2 separate regions of the Homo sapiens genome follow, and region 2 is linked to region 1. A link means that fine-mapping ties the variant in region 1 to the expression of a gene that starts in the linked region. Tissue or cell type: whole blood. Region 1 holds a variant in brackets; the other region holds the start of a gene. All regions are shown on one strand. Distances are from middle to middle.

What was found. PIP is the estimated chance that this variant, and not a neighbour inherited with it, causes the effect.
Region 2: CAPRIN2 starts here. The variant in region 1 is fine-mapped to the expression of CAPRIN2 in whole blood (TOPMed, PIP 0.93).

Annotation. Positions count from the first base shown.
Region 1 is chr12:30,815,373-30,823,478 of GRCh38, reverse strand. No RefSeq gene overlaps it. Among named protein-coding and RNA genes, the nearest start is that of LINC00941, 24 kb to the right of the region's middle. The variant G/A (reference allele first, on the strand shown) is at 4,553.
Region 2 is chr12:30,751,800-30,759,905 of GRCh38, reverse strand. CAPRIN2 (caprin family member 2) reads left to right here and starts at 4,955. Exons shown (of 19, transcript NM_001385503.1): 1 at 4,955-5,155; 2 at 6,347-6,562. The coding sequence starts at 6,386. LOC645485 (a long non-coding RNA gene) reads right to left here and starts at 4,832. Exons shown (of 2, transcript NR_135046.1): 1 at 4,635-4,832. RefSeq lists silencers at 3,427-3,630, 4,722-5,401 and enhancers at 5,329-5,498, 5,502-5,581.

The sequences.
Region 1 (8,106 bases):
CATGGCCTCCAACCCCGCCCCCTAGGTTTTGATTTCAGGACTGGGGCAATTTGCTGAAGACCCGGAGTTCACAGAGGTCTCAACCCAGAAGCTGGCCTCCGCCTGTGACAGCACAGGAGACGAGGTGGAGTGCGAGGCCCACAGCGTCCTCAGCGGGGCGCCCCGCGGAGCCCTGCAGAGGCCCTCTTGCCTTTAGTGAACTGCGGGGACCTGGCCAATGCCGGCAGGGGCCAGCGCAGAAAAGCCTGGGAGATGCGCGTCCAGGGCCGCGAGTGCAGGGAAGCTGCGGGACCGCAGAGTCCGCTCGGCAGCCGGTAGTCAGGGCGCCGGGGCGTTAGGCTTCAGATTTACTTCAATGTTCCTAATGGGCTTGCTTCAGAAGTGCTCACTGTTCTCGCCACCTGAGGAACCGCATTTTCATGTATTTGTATTGGGACAAGACGCGGAGTCCGGTGTGTAAAGGGCCTGCTTTGAGGGAAGAAAGGCCGCAGCCCAGGGTGAGTTCGCAGAGACGGCGGGTGAGGAGGAGGCGGGAGATCAGGGACGAAGGGGAGGGCAGAGGCCCCTGCCTGCTCCTGGCACTGCAGGCCCTGCGCCGCGAACCTGCGGCCGCCTCTGGGGAGAGAGGAGCCCGGCTTCCTGCGGCGCTCACCAAAAGGACCCGAGAGCAAACGGGTGTCTTTCAACTCAGCTTGTAATAAAAGCATTTGCACATATCCTGTATGAGCCTCCCTGTCTCCAGAGAAACAGGGCCTGTGGATTTGGAGAAGGGAGCGGGGCAGGACTTCTCGCGAGGACCCCAGCCCAGCCCACAGAGGGAGGGCGAAGCAGCCGGAGCCGCGGAGCTCCGGGAAACAGGCGTGGGAGCCGGGGCCCAGGGCAGCAGTGCAGCTCACCCCAGACCCGGGCACAGCGGCGGCTGCCCGGCCACCTCCGCCCGCCCGCGACGGGATCACTTGACCTACACCCAGCACGCGGAGCTCCAGCCCAGCAGCTGGGCAGGCAGCCGAGAAAGGAGCTGGCGCCGCCCACAGGGAAAGGGCACCAGCGCCCACCAAATGAAGATGTGCTGAGCTTCTGTGGAGCGCTCTTTTGTTTTGTGGTTTGACACTTTTCTTGCAGTTTTCATTTTTTGATTTGTTTTGGGCTTTTTTTTTTTTTTTTTTTTTTTTTGGTTTTTATTTTCCCAGAGGAGAGGAGAGGAAGGAGAGTGTTTACAAAGTCCTGTAGCCACCCACTTTGTTTTCACTTTTGCCAGTGTAACTCGGGTTTGGTTTTCTTGTATTATTTAAATGGTTGTGGTTTCCTTTACCCAGGTAGGGTTCAATAGAAGCCTTTGTTGGAGAATTATACTAAGTATTGTGTATGCCCAATAATTTGTTATAAATCCCTTAAGTAGTAATCCTTTTTTTTTTTCCTGGCTTGGTTTAGTTTTCTAATGTAAAGGTAATTGGCAATGCACTTGATATATCTTGCACAATATAGGTAATTGAGTTGGGTTCCATTTTACCCTGGGTGTATAGGTAGGTGTGGGAGGGAGGAGCATGGGTGAGAGAGTCTTTGTGTGTGTTACACATGTGTGTATGTAGTAGGTTGTGTACATATGTCCAAATGTGTATGCACCCATATCGTGTGCCCATGGCACCTGTGAGTACACAATCCCCCTATTCTGGTTTAATTGTGCGGAGATCTAAATCTGGGACCGTTTGAATACAAAAACAGACCACTGTCTCTACTTCTAAGGTGGTAATCCATAACTCTTTGCATTTCTGTCCCACAAGATAATGCAAAAACAATGCAATAATATTCATTTTAAAATATAGTTGTGAGTTCCCTTGGCATTAAAACTATATTTTAAAAAAACACAGAGAAATTTAAGGGAAAAACTCAAGAAGGCATTTTGCTTCGATACATCTCATGTAATTTTTTATTACTTTGCTAATGTTTCTGTTGAAGAAACTTAAATTCAGGTCAGTTTCAGTATTTTTCAAATTTTTTTTAATGGAGTTACAATTGTGCCAAGTGAATATAATGATTATATTTTAATTCACTTCTTGTGTAATTTGCTGCATGTAAATCATTTTGTATTTGGAGTGTGACAAGGGTTACTTCTGAACACTTAAGTGCTTTTCTCTATGTGATTGAGGGAAAGGGAATGATTTTTCTTTTAATTTGTATGATGAGCAAAGGTATTGTTGCAGTCTCACTGATGCATCTTATTGTAGCAGTTTCTCATTGTTTGAACTAGTACCCAGGGTTCTTTGTCCTACATCCAAGAAGGTTAAGGAATGTGGATACAAGGATGAGGTTGGAGCAAAAGTTTAATAAGCTAAAGAAGAAAGCTCTCCGCAGCAGAGGGGAGTCCGAGTGGATTGCCAGGTTGCAGCTGATTGCAGTAAACTTCTATAAGCAACTGCTCTCCTCCCTGTAACTGTTTTAGTAACTTTTTACCAGTAAAGCTGTCCGTGCAATTCCCCTTATGCAGCTGTAGGTATGTCTTTAGGCAGGCACAAAGCGCCACTTCTCTTATTTATATAACTGTGGGTTTGTTTTAGGTAAGTCCCCCTCCTCCCTGTGCCAGTTTCTGTGGAGCCCACCGTGTATATGCCTGAAAAGGGGAAGAAACTTTTTCCTGGGAGTTTGCTAATTATACAAAGAACAATGGGCTTCTCTGCAGGACCCTGTCTGCTTATCTGTGTGCATGTGCAGCCTGAGGTTTTACCCATGTTTGTTTTTGTTTGTTTGTTTTGTGTGTGTGTGTGTGTGTGTGTGTGTGAGTGTGTTTTCCTGTTGCTCTGACTTTTGAGGCAGGCTGCTTTTGCAGTCCAAGTATTCCCCAACTGATTTTTCCCTTTCCTTCTCCCTCATTATTCTGGTATCTGTAAGTCATTATTCTGGTATCTGCAAACAAGTTAGGACATTGCTGTTTTGAATATCTTGTGTTTGCTTCCATTTCCCTCAATTTTTCTAAAATCATGTGATAGGTATATTTGTACCACGTCTTACTTTGTGAAACCAAGACCTGTTTTATTCTTTCTGTTGTTTTTTGAGATGGAGTTTCACTCTTGTTGCCCAGGCTGGAGTGCAATGGCGTGATCTTGGTTCACTGCAACCTCCACCTCCCAGGTTCAAGAGATTCTCCTGCCTCAGCCTCCCGAGCAGCTGGGATTACAGGTGCCCACGACCATGCCCAGCTAATTTTTGTATTTTTAGTAGAGACTGGGTTTCACCATGTTGACCAGGCTGATCTCAAACTCCTGACCTCAGGTGATCTGCCTATCTTGGCCTCCCAAAGTGCTGGGATTACAGACATGAGCCACCATGCCCTGCCTGACGTGTTTTATTCTTGTCTTCACTCTATCCACTCGTTTTGGGTTCTTTGGCTTCATACTTCTCCAAGAACAATGCTTCACTGTGAGGTGTAGGGAGGCATTCTGACCAGCCTCTGTGTCCCTGAGCTGGCATCAGAATCCTCCACAGAAGAGGTGGCTGACCTTCTCTTTATTGCCACAGCATGGACTTCTGTCATTGGTTTCCTGGGGAAAATGTGCACTGACTGAGAGTATGGAAGTAGTCTCAGGCTGGCTGGAGGGAGGGGCCTCCTCACTCCAAGCCTCTGCTCTACTCAAACGCAGACATCAGGGGCTCAAGAAGGGAAACTGGGTGAAACCATTGTTCATCCAAAAATCAACTCTGTCATGCTCATTTCTCTATCCTTTCCTCACTTTAGACCAGGCTTTCCTCCAGCTGCCATGGAGGGGACCAGGACAAGGGAGGAGGCAGCAAGCAGGAGCTCACAGTGGTGGAAACAAATTTTGTGGGGGCAACTCTTATGCTAGTTTGCATCTCCCTAGAACATTGCCCTATGGTGTTGTGTCCTTCAAATGTATTTTGACAATGATGGTTGAAAAGCAACTGCTTTGGGGAAAATAGGACCCAACTATTCACCCTGAATTGGCTCATTGAATCTCTTGTAGTCCCAGTGTTCAGCCCCTCTTGGCACTTGTATCAGCAAGCTAGAAATTAAAATAGACCATCATCCATTCCTCAATGACGATGAGTTGTGCTTTCATGGACTGATTCATGAAAAAGTGGAGAAAGTGTCAGTAACTCCCAGATTAACTGTTTCTAGAGTCTAGAAACAAGAGTCTTTGTGGTTCTCCAAGTTCAGCCCATCTAGATTTTCTTGGTTCCTTTTCATTGCCATAAAGGTCTTCTAGAAATTGACTTTAGGTAACATCCTTTTTCTAGTTTCCCAAGGTTTCTACCACTGCGCTGCTAAGATTCTAGTTATGATGGTGATGGGGGCCCTTTTGAACTGACAACTGGTTCTTGCTGTATATTTGGCCCCTAGATGGAAATTTGGAGTTTTGACAGACCCAACACACACACACTCTCTCTCTCTTTCTCTCTCTCTCTCTCTCTCTCTATCTTTCTCTCTCTCAAAAGTTTTCTGCTGCCTTCTCTTTTGAATTTTTCATTCCCAGGTCTCACTGGACAGTGGCATGGGCTATGGGGTGGGCTCCTGCCCACAACTCCCAGGGTCCTGCCA[G/A]TTATGATCCCCTCACCTTTCCCACTCATACCCACAGGCTCCCTTCTTGTCTAATGTCAACACTGGCCAGAGTAGCCTTCCTCCCTGCACCCTACAAGGAAGATGTCAGCTGTGACAAGGACACCTTGCCCAGTGCTGCTGTGAGGGAAGGAGGTATAGATGGGAGTTCCCCATCTAGGGCAGTGGATCTTTCCTAGCCTGACCTGCTGGTCATTTAGTCTAAGACTGATGTACGATGCCTATCATCAGGATAGATTAGTTCAATGAATAGTGACATCAATGAACCACATCCATGATGTGCTTGGTGATGTCTACTCTCCACCTAAAATGGAATTTTCCCTATGACCTTGTGAAACATAATTGCCAAATCTCCTGTAGCCCTCCTGAAAACCCCTGCATGGCAGGAGAAAACAGCCAGTGGCTGAGGAACCAAAGGACTTGAAGAAGCACAACTTAAGGTCTTTGATTTGATCAACTTAATTTTTATTTGTCCTCTGAGCAGCCCTGCCTCTTTTATTTCTACATCTTGATCTTTTAGTAATTCTTCATGTGCATGGCCACAAGAAGCAAAAAAAAAAACAAAAACAAAAACAAAAAACTCCAGCTGTTTGTTTTCTGCCTGTTCCTAGAAGATTTTCATGGTTTTGAGATAAAAAGAGGAGGCTTTTTTCTAGGTTTTGACTTGGATTAGTGAAAATTTCCCTGCTATTCAGAAGCTGTTAGTTATAGCCCCCAGTGGGCTTCCCGCTGACTGGGGAATCAGGTCAAAGAACAAGAGGATGTCTCTTATCCTCCCGTTTCCCTGGTTCCAAATTCCAGGTACTTGTCTGGAGTGAAGCTGCCTATCACTCCCTGACAGCCGTTCTCCATCCAGAATGTCTCCTGACCCTCCAGCTGAAGACAGCAGAGCCAGCACAGGAGAAGCAGACCTTTCCATGCCCAAGTTCAAATCTTTCTGAGAAATAAGAACACTCTGAAAATGAGGAGTTTGGAATCATCAAAAGGGTGATGGTTGCTTTATAGAGGCTGAACGATGCACACTCAGCACTCCTAAAGGCAAAAATATAGAATAAGAATTTAGGTTAGGGATAGACTAGAACCCTGGTAATTGGGGTTTTCAGCACCATCAAGCCATTATCATAAATGTTCCAAAGGAGGATGATGGTATCTCCATGCCTACAGGCCTAGAATAATTGAAATGCCATTCTCTAGGAGTTAGAATCAGTTTAGCAAAGAGACCAAGAAAAGGGTTGTCTGGCTCCCAGAAGCCCTCTTTAAACCCCAGGACAATCAAAAACTTGCTGATAGAGTCTGGGCCAATTCTGCTTTTTAAAGAAGACCTGGTTCTGGGGTAAAGGTCAGCAGAGAGAGGACTGTGGGGAGAATAGGGGCAAGAAAAGGGCATATTTTGGCTCCTTCTGTGTCTTCTCATTGTTGTAGAAAAAAACAGGTTCTCATCGCACAACCAGGAAAGATTAGGCATGCAGACACTTTGAAGGGTGAGTGGTTACAGAATTTATTGGGCAAAAAGAAAAAAGATTCTCAGCAAAGCTAAAGGGGTTCCTGTTAAAAGGCCCCCATCTCACAGATTGAATTCCAGGTCACCACCCAGGAACAGGAGAGGCCAGGCTCCTCCCCCCTACAAACAGCACGAACTTCCTGAGGCCCTGCCCCATCCTCCCAGTGCACAGGCCAGTCGGAGGTTCTCCAGGGACCACTTTTTACTTGGCTGTCTCACCATTTTGTGGAAAGACATGTTTAGTTCACCCATCCACAGTGACCAGTGGGGTGGAGTGGCTGATATATCAAGGGTCTATATAGGAAGATTTTCAATCTGGTGGTGTTTTCGCAGTCACATTGACCTTCCTGGCAGGTGTGAGGGTCTCTACCACCCAGTTCCCCACTCTGCTGATGTCCTTCCACTCATGCTATCCAGCTGCCACATGACACAGGTCCTGTCTGAAGGCAGGCGGGGAAGCCCAAACCTGACTCACAGGGCAGCTCGCAGTTGCCAGAGTCTAGGTTCTCCAGCAGCCACATTTTGAAGAAAGACATGTCCTACAATTGTCACGGATGGGCACCCTTCCCCCTCCCTACACAGATCTCCCTCTTCCTGCTCCCCTCCCAGCTCCCAGCTCTCCCTTCTCCTTGTAGCCTGGTGAGAGGGACAAGTCAGAGAGAGTTCTACATACAGATATTTGCACAGTTTTTTTGTGAGGCCACTTTTGGTTTTAACTTTATTTCTATCTCAAAGCAATGAAAAATTGCTTTATTGCATCAGATACCAATATAACAGTTAAATGCGTTTCTGCTAGATCTCCGTATTGGTTTTTTGTTTTTTGAGACAAGGTCTCACTTTGTTGCCTAGGCTGGAGTGCAGTGGCACAATCATGGCTCACTGCAGCCTTGACTTCCTGGGATCAATGGATCCTGTCAACTCAGCCTCCCACAAGTAGCTGGGACTAGAGAAGCACGTCATCACACCCAGCTAATGTTTGTATTTTTACAGATACTGGGTTTCACTATTTTGCTTAGGTTGGTCTCCAACTCTTGGCTCAAGTATTCCTCCCATCTTGGCCTCCCAAAGTGCTGGGATTACAGGTGTGAGCCACCACACACACCTGGTCTCCACATTGTTGGGGAGATACTTGAACACTCCCTCTACCAAAACACACACACCCGTAAGGCCCAAAGATGAGTGGAGCTCTAGATAAGGGACCTTTCTTCTTCCCAGAATGGTGAGCACTGTATAGACAGACATGGAGAGAGAACCAGAGTGACTCCTTGGATGGAAAAATGACTTCCTTGGGGGAAAGAAATCATTCTTATTAATAAGCAAGATGATTTCTACATAGAAAATTCCAAGGAATGCACACACACACACACATACACACACCCTAAAAGTAATACAAGGTCAACACACAACACACAGCTGAATTTCTAAACACTAGCAATAAATAAAACCAAAAATTTTGAAATAATTGCACCTATAATATCTCTGAAACATAAAACTTCTAGGTATATATAGGATCTGTGTGCTGAAAACTTACACAATGCTGTAAACAAAATCAAAGAAGTTCTAAATAAATCAAGAGTATATGGATTCATGGATTGGAAGACCCAACACAGTAAAGATTTTAATTCTTCCCAAATTGATCTATACCTTTAATGCAACTCCATCAAAATCCCAGCACAGGATATTTTATAGAGACAAGATGATTCTATGATTCTATAATTTACATGCAAAGATAAAAGGTAAAAAGAAGAATACAGAGAGTCTAGAAATAGGTCTACACAAATACAGCCAATTGACTTCTGACAGAGGTGCAAAGGCAACCCAGTAAACAAAGACACTCTTTCAATAGGTGCTATTGGAACAATTGAACTGTCATGTGCAAAACATTGAACCGCAACCTAAAGCTCCTACCTTATATAAAAATCAATTCAAATGGACCACAGATTTAAATATAAAATGTAAAACTATAAAACTTTTAGAAGAAAATATGGGATAAATATTCAAGACTTAGTCCTTAGACATGGCACCAAAATAGTAA
Region 2 (8,106 bases), 64 kb after region 1:
TAGAGACAGAGTCTTGCTCTGTCCCCCAGGCTGGAGTGCAGTGGCATGATCTCGGCTCACTGCAAGCTCTCCCTCCCGGGTTCACGCCATTCTCCTGCCTCAGCCTCCCAAGTAGCTGGGACTGCAGGTACCCGCCACCACACTCGGCTAATTTTTTGTATTTTTAGTAGAGACGGGGTTTCACCTGTTGGCCAGGATGGTCTCGATCTCCTGATGTCATGATCCGCGCGCTTCAGCCTCCCAAAGTGCTGGGATTACAGGCGTGAGCCACCACACCAAGTTTATTTTAATAAAAAGATGCTCATTATATTTTAAGTCAAAATAGCAGAATTGCAAAATGTTTAGTACATTCCCATTTTTGTAAAAAATTATACAGATATTTTCTTGGAAATAAGTCTAGAAGAATATAAGCAAAAAGTTAATAATGGTAATCGGTGGAGGGGGCAGCTTTCATGTTTTTGGGAAAATACTTTTTCTGGTTTGGTATAAAAACTAAACATATGCTATAAAAATAAAGTGAAAACATCTTTCAGCCTTTTCCATGCATATTTAAAATGAAATATTTTACAAAGTCACAATCTTACTAAATGTTTTATACCGTGTTTTATCCTGCCCTTTTTTCACTTCATATAATATCATGTCATTGAATATTCTTTGAAAAGATGATTTGTACTACTTGAATTAAAATTCATGGCTTAGAGTCACATTATTTAGCCATTTCTCTATTGTTGAGTGTCTAGGTTGTTGTTTACAATTTCCCACCACTTAAAAAAATGTGGTGCCTAGCATTTTCATAAATAAGTGATTGTTTGCATCTCTGATTATTTTGATAGGGGAGATTCCTAAAATAAAGGCTACTGGATCAAAAGATATGAATATTTTAAAATGTCTTTCTGAATGAATTCCTTTGAAGACACTGTAACACTGAATTGCTTATTCTTTTTGGTTTCAATCTTCAAGTTTAATTGCCTATTTCTATACTTTATTTACTCCATGGAAGCAGCAAGGGAAAGGGATGAAGCGGCCTGGAGTGCATGTTGCATTAGAGGGCAGAAGACCTAGATTCTTTAGGTCTTGGAAAACTCACAAATGTCCACCAGCTTTATATACCTTGTCTTTCAAATAAGGGCGGGGGGGTGGGATTCCTTAGCCATAAATTCCACAGTTCTCTAGTTCTCCTTGGCTACTAGGAGAAATGCTGGGCTTCGTATTATGGCAAAAGCAGCAAATACAGGTATCTCAGTGGAGGATATGTTTTCATGGCCTAGTCTCTAGTCAGATGCTTTTACAGAAACGAAATGAAATCCTTAACAATGCTGTTAATAGGTAATATTATGTTTGTTTTATTATCAGCAGTTTTACAGCTGAAAAAACTGAAGCCCACAGAATTTCAGTCACTTGCCCAAGATCATTCAGCTAGTAAGGGGCAGGAACAAGAATCCAATCCATGTGTGTCTGGCTCCAAAGCCCATGCTGTTGACACTTTATAATACTTCAAAGTTGGACAGAAATCATATTTTTATGGGCTTGATATTATTGATTTAATGACACACATTCATAAGTTCTACACTGATTACTCCTCCTCTAAAGAACTTTTATTTCAAAGGTACTTAATGGTGGAGCACTATTAATGCATTAACTTCAATATCAGAAAAACAGTATCAACAAAACCAATAGGAATGTATAATTTTATGAAAAAATAAGCCTACCAAATTATTAATCTTACAAACTAGATATTTCTCTAAAAATACCCTAAACTATTATGGCAAGTTTTTTTTCCTACCTGAGGTCTATATTTCTCAGTTCTTTACTTTCATAAAAAGTTTCTCAAATATTTGAATAGACACTCTATGAATCAGCAAGTATGTGAAAGTACTGTATATATATATATATATTTTTTTTTTTTTTTTTTTTTTGAGACAGAGTTTCGCTCTTGTCATCCAGGCTGGAGTGCAGTGGCGCAATCTTGGCTCACTGCAACCTTCTCCTCCTGGGTTCAAGCGATTCTTCTGTCTTAGTGTCCCAAGTAGCTGCGATTACAGGGGCGCACCACCATGCCCGGCTGATTTTTGTATTTTTAGTACAGATGGGGTTTCGCCATGTTGGCCAAGCTGGTCTTGAACTCCTGATTTCAGGTGATCTGCCTGCCTTGGTTTCCCAAAGTGCTGGGATTACAGGCGTTAAGCCACCACACCCGGCCAAAAGTACTATCTTTTTAACAACCTTATGTTATTGTTCCTGTCTTTTTCTTTCTTAGCCTTCTTATTATTTTTCTTGGTGACTTTCTCCCTCTCTCTCTGTCTCTTGGTGGCAATTCTCCACAAAGTCTCGTAGAGCCAATAAGAAACAGACTTCTATCACCCACAACCATGTGTCTAAGATAATTTCTCATATCTCTACTAACACGCTACCAGGTTTCACATCCTTTGGTGGATTTATCTTTCCAGTTTCAACAATATGAAGCTATATTAATTTTAAGTGACTACAGCATAACCATCCCTGCAGCAATTGAACATTTGTCAGACAGTGCATATTTAACACCTTCACATTTTCAAAGGACGTAAAGTCTGGCTGTTTTTGTAGAAATCAAACCATCCATTATTAAAGTCTTTAGTATTTTTGTCTTCGGGTTTTTTGATTTGGTTGTTTTTGCCATTTACATCTATAGCTTTTACTGAATTCCCACTTAGCTCCACGAAGGCAGAAGCTATATTGTCTCAGTCACCATTATGCCTTATCACCTACTACATAGCAAGTGCTAAGTAAACATCTGTTGAATGAATAAATGAATATATTCTTCTATCAATGATTCGAGACAACACTTTTTATCATATTTCCAATATAGTTATTCCTTGCTAAGCTTGGAGGTGGCATGCCACAGATACTGCCTCACAGTTGGCAAGAAAAGTCACGGTCTTACAGAAAATAGGGAGTGGGAGAGGGTAAAATAAACTAAACTCCTGACAAATAAAAGTTTTGGGGACATGTGCTTTCAAAGTAAGCCAGACTTACTGACTTTAAAGATCTCCTCTAGCAGAAAAGCTTTTATCTGAATCATCTTTTTAACTTGTTCAGAAGACATTGCTTCAAGAGTATCTACTGTGGTATGTTCTCCTACAAATGTCACGCCATACGTATACAGACTGTACCCTACTGGACTTGAAATTCAATTATTTTTGCTTTTGCATTCTTTCGTGATGCATTTTTATAATCCTTCCTGAGAAGTAAATCTGTATGGATTTATTCATTTAGAAGAATATCCATTTAGTAGAAAATTTAAAATTTACGGCCTCCTTTTTGCCTGACCGATTAGAAGGCAAACATTTCTTTCTTTCTTTCTTTTTTTGAGATAGAGTCTTGCTCTGTCACCCAGGCTGGAGTGCAGCGGCACAATCTCGGCTCACTGCAGCGTCCGTCTCCGGGTTTCAAGCGATTCTCCTGCCTTAGCCTCTGAGTAGCCATGATTACAGGCACATGCCGCCATGCTCGGCTAATTTTTGTATTTTTAGTAGAGATGGATATTCACCACGCTGGCCAGCCTGGCCTCGAACTCCCGACCTCAGGTGATCCACCCCGCCTCGGCCTCCCAAAGTGCTGGGATCACAGGCTTGAGCCACTGCGCCGGCAGGGGGCAAACATTTCATGATTAATCTGACTGAAATACCATTTTTAGGTTCATCATTAGCTCGGACTACAACTCAGGCTGTGCTGTAACTTTGTGTCAACTCATTGATCCAACAGTGTGTCCTTCACATTTTTTCTTATGGCCACTGTTTTTTGTGTTACCAAAGGTGAAGGCATAGCCTTCCTCTCCTCATGTTCAGCATCTTCTGCGTTTCTCTGTTTATAAACAATGAGAAAAAGGGAAAATCTAGTATTTCTCTGACCCTGAAGAACACATATGGGATTCAGAGATTCAAAGTTAAAATGCAACATTAGGGTACATTATGTCACCAGGGACCGAAAAGAACACGGATAATAGATGCCAAAAAAATGTATTAAGTAATGTTAAAATTAATTTGTGTGAAGTTGACCAAGGCTTTTAAAACTAGACCTTTGTTTCCTTGATTCTTCTTCTGAATTTTCTGTTCTTTTGCTAGTCTCAATATTTTTTATCAGAGCGTCAGGGACAATCAGGACCTAAAAAACTCCACTTGGTGTAATAAGTAAACACATGTTGGGGCAAAGTATTGCTGAGTGTGTGTGTGTGTTTCTTATTTGGTATCAGAAACACCTTCCTTTCCTCAATAAACTTTTACATATTTCCAGACTTTTCTCTTAATTTTATGTAACCTTACAAAGATTTTTTACAGCTTTCTCTGCGTGCCAGTCAATTAATGTGTGTCACATGAACAAATAATACGGCTTGAATAAACTCAATCCTATTATTGCAGGTTGCGAAGTCACCTACTCCGTTTTTATGGCGATGCTGATTTGGGGCATTCTGCTCTTACAGGCTGATTCCCCGGTAAGGAAACGGTGTTTTTTCCCCATCCTACTATGAAAGATGCTATCTGAGGGGCAAAGGCGCATCTGCATTTCACGACTACCCACTAGGCTACGACAGCCTCAAGCATGGCTTATCTGGTAGTTCCGCGAAGGGCTCGCTGCCCTCCTGGAGCTATTGGAGTCACCTGTTCAAGGTCGCGAAACCACCGGTGCCGCCGGCAATCAGCGAGGTCCAGCGGGGCTGCGCGGTTTCCGGCCTGCCGGCGTTCGGCGTCGCCTCGGCCCCACCTGGTGCCCCGCAATCTGCGCAAAGGCTGGGAGACCGCGCCCTCTCCCGACCTACCACCAGCCCAAGCTGGGCCCGGAACTAACACCCGACAAGCGCTGGCGGCCAGCTGCAGCCGGGAAGGAGCACCGGAAGGAGGCGGTGGCGGGGCGGCCGAGGGCGGAGCGGGCCGGGGCGGGGCGCGGCCTACAAAAGCCACGCGCGGCGCGGTGGGCGGGCCTGGGCGCGAGCGGCTGAGTCGGCTGGGTCTCTGGCGCCGCAGAGGCCGCGGGCGAGGACCGGGAGGGGAGAGGGAGGAGACAGGAGGAGGAGACGCGAGTGCGGGGTGGCGCCGGTCCACCTCCGCAGCGCTCCTGCCTCCCCCAGGCTTTGGAAGGCGGGCCCGGGCTGCGGCAGCGGCGGCCTCGGCTGCCTGGGGAGGTGAAGTCGGGCTGCGGCGGCCTCGGTCGGCGCGGCGGAGGGAGGCGGCTGACCCGGCGAGGGTGGGCAGGTCTGGGCGGCCGGCGCCGCTGCGAGGTGGAGGGGCGGCTTGGCATCCCCGGGGCGGGGCGGGGCTCCCGAGGGCCGCGGTCGGTGCGTTTTCCGCAGGTCAGCCTCCCCCGGGGCCTTGCAGAAGCGGCTTCTGCGTACCCGGGGCGGCTGTGGGAAGGGTGGGGGTCGGTGCCTGCAGGGCTCTCCGTGGCCGCTCGGGAGAGGTGCTCTTCGCTCAGGCTCCCCCGGAGACTTGAGGGGGTGCGCGCTGGCGTGCATGGGGCCTGTTCTGTCCTTGGTTTGGGGATGCTCCTAAGGGGGGAGAAAGGGATACCTCGGGTGCTTGGAGGTCGAGAGACGGATACGTAAGTGCGCAAGGGCCACTGATTAGGGCACGGGAAGGGCTCGCTAGAATGAGCTCTTAAACTGGTTGGGTGTAAGCGGTTTTGGGCTAGTCTAAACCAAACAACTGAGAATAAACGCGGGGTTCCTGCAGGTTGAGAGAGTACCTGTCTGCAAATGTCCAGTAGTGATGGATTGCCTTGTAGGCCCCAGAGCAATCGGGGAAGTTAGCATTCTTGTTCAAGAAGCTGCTGGTTCACTTAGAGCTATAAAAGAATGTTGTGAGTTTGGATTTTCTTCCAAACGTTCAGGATTGAGGTTAGGGCTGGTGGTGAGGGATCATGTAAAGAGGTTTGAGTGGCTCAGCCTTAGGTCCCGGTGTGGAAAGCTTATTCTTTTGGTGTCATCACGTGGCCATGGGAATTATTTAGAATGTGATCTGCCCTCATGAGAAGAAAGGAGCTCTGAAGCCGTTGCAGTTCTTCCTCCCTATGTGGAAAATCGAATTTCTGGAAACATCCTCCGTATTGGGAGATTTTGCCTATGTAAAGGCTATCCTTATTGGCTAGCGGCACTAATTACTTTAAAAGTAGGATGGAAGTACAAGTATCTCAAGCATCATTGGGTTTCGAGCTCACTTCTGTGGAAAAGAGTTTAAGGGAGTGGTCTAGACTTTCCAGGGAAGTTATTGCCTGGCTGTGTCCCTCTAGTCCTAATTTTATACTTAACTTTCCCCCACCTCCTTCAGCCTCATCTGTTTCAATGGTGCAACTCTTTTCATCCCCTTTTGGTTACCAGTCACCTTCAGGCCATTCAGAGGAGGAAAGAGAGGGGAATATGAAGTCAGCCAAGCCCCAAGTGAACCACAGTCAGCATGGGGAAAGCCAGCGGGCCTTGAGCCCCCTGCAGTCTACTCTGAGTTCTGCTGCATCTCCTTCCCAAGCGTATGAGACCTATATTGAAAATGGACTCATATGCCTTAAACACAAAATTAGAAACATCGAGAAAAAGAAGGTAACTTTTTTTCTTCCAGTCCTGTAGATGCATGATCTTAAAGATTAAGGAGCTGACATTTTTCTTTCAGAGCTCATAGGTGTTCTCTACTAAAAATTTAACTAACCTTAGGTTTAGCTGCTTTAAACAAGCAGGTTACGTGTTGGAAATATTAAACATTTTCTGTTTCATTTGTCAAAACAACGGAATAAAAATATTCTTCATAGTTACATTATGCATGCTGCTGTTGAAATACTTTAAGAGCTAGCTATTTTAGGTGAGATTAATTCCTTATGTAGTATTAATGTTTCTTTTCATAGATGTGTTAATAGCTGATTTTTTAGCTTGTTTTCCTTGTGACTTTCTGCAGCAGTTGATATTGCAGTATAACTGCTGCAGTCGTTGGAAGGTTTAACCGTAGTAGAACTAGAAAATGTTTTACCACTTACTTTTGTGGTGTTAGGTGAAGATTTAAGATTGCTAGGTGAAAGCGTGGTAGTCAGCCTTGTAAAGAGACCCAGGAGTTAAGCCTAGCTACAGAAAATGCTGTTGTAAAGATCTAAATCCTTCTTCATTTCCTGAGTCATGTAGCCTGTGAAACAGACTGCACGTTGCTTTGCTGTATTACGTTTCTCTTCTGCTTTTGGACAGGTGAGGTTGAGTGACTATCTGGACCTATGTGTTGTTAAGTACTTTTGTGCCAAGACCTAGTTAGACCTTAAAGTTGCTTTTAATGGAGGAGTGTGAAGAGACTCTTTAGAGTCTGGTTGACTCTTTTTTTTTTTTTTTTTTAACCTAAGAAAGTAAAGAAGGGCAAGTTGCTAGTAGCTTCTCTGTAGCTCTCACCATTTATCTTTTTAACGTATGCAGTTGATCACAAGTGTGGTAAGGTGAGTGTGCCAGGTCAGCACAAATTCCCCATCACTGTGATAAATGATCAAAGCAGGATCTATTGACGGAGCCTCCCTCAGGTGGAGGAACTACATATATGTATGCTTATGCTCTCTAGCTTACCTATAGTACCTCTTTAATTTTGAATACCAGATAGTACGAGTACTTTTGTTTCAACCTTCTGGGAAAGAATTTTTCCACTAAAGCCAATACAGGAGGAACCTAAAGAATGCTTTTAGAGTACCATAGTGGGTCCGGGTGCAGTGGCTCACACCTGTAATCCCTGCGCTTTGGGAGGACAAGGCAGGTAGATCACCTGAGGTCAGGAGTTTGAGACTAGCCTGGCCAACATGATGAAACCCCGTCTCTACTAAAAATACAAAAAGAATTAGCCAGGCGTGGTGGGGGGTGCCTGTAATCCCACCTACTCAGGAGGCTGAGGCAGGAGAATCGCTTGAACCCAGGAGGTGGAGGTTGCAGTGTGCCGAGATCGCGACACTGCACTCCAGCCTGGGCAACGGAGTGAAATTCTGTCTCAAAAAAAAAAAAAAAAAAAAAAAAAAATACCATAGTGGGTTTATGTCATTATTATGGGGCCAACAAATGCAATTTATTTTTCATAATTTCCTTAAGTATCAAATATAATATGAAAAATAACTTCAAGATGAGCCTAC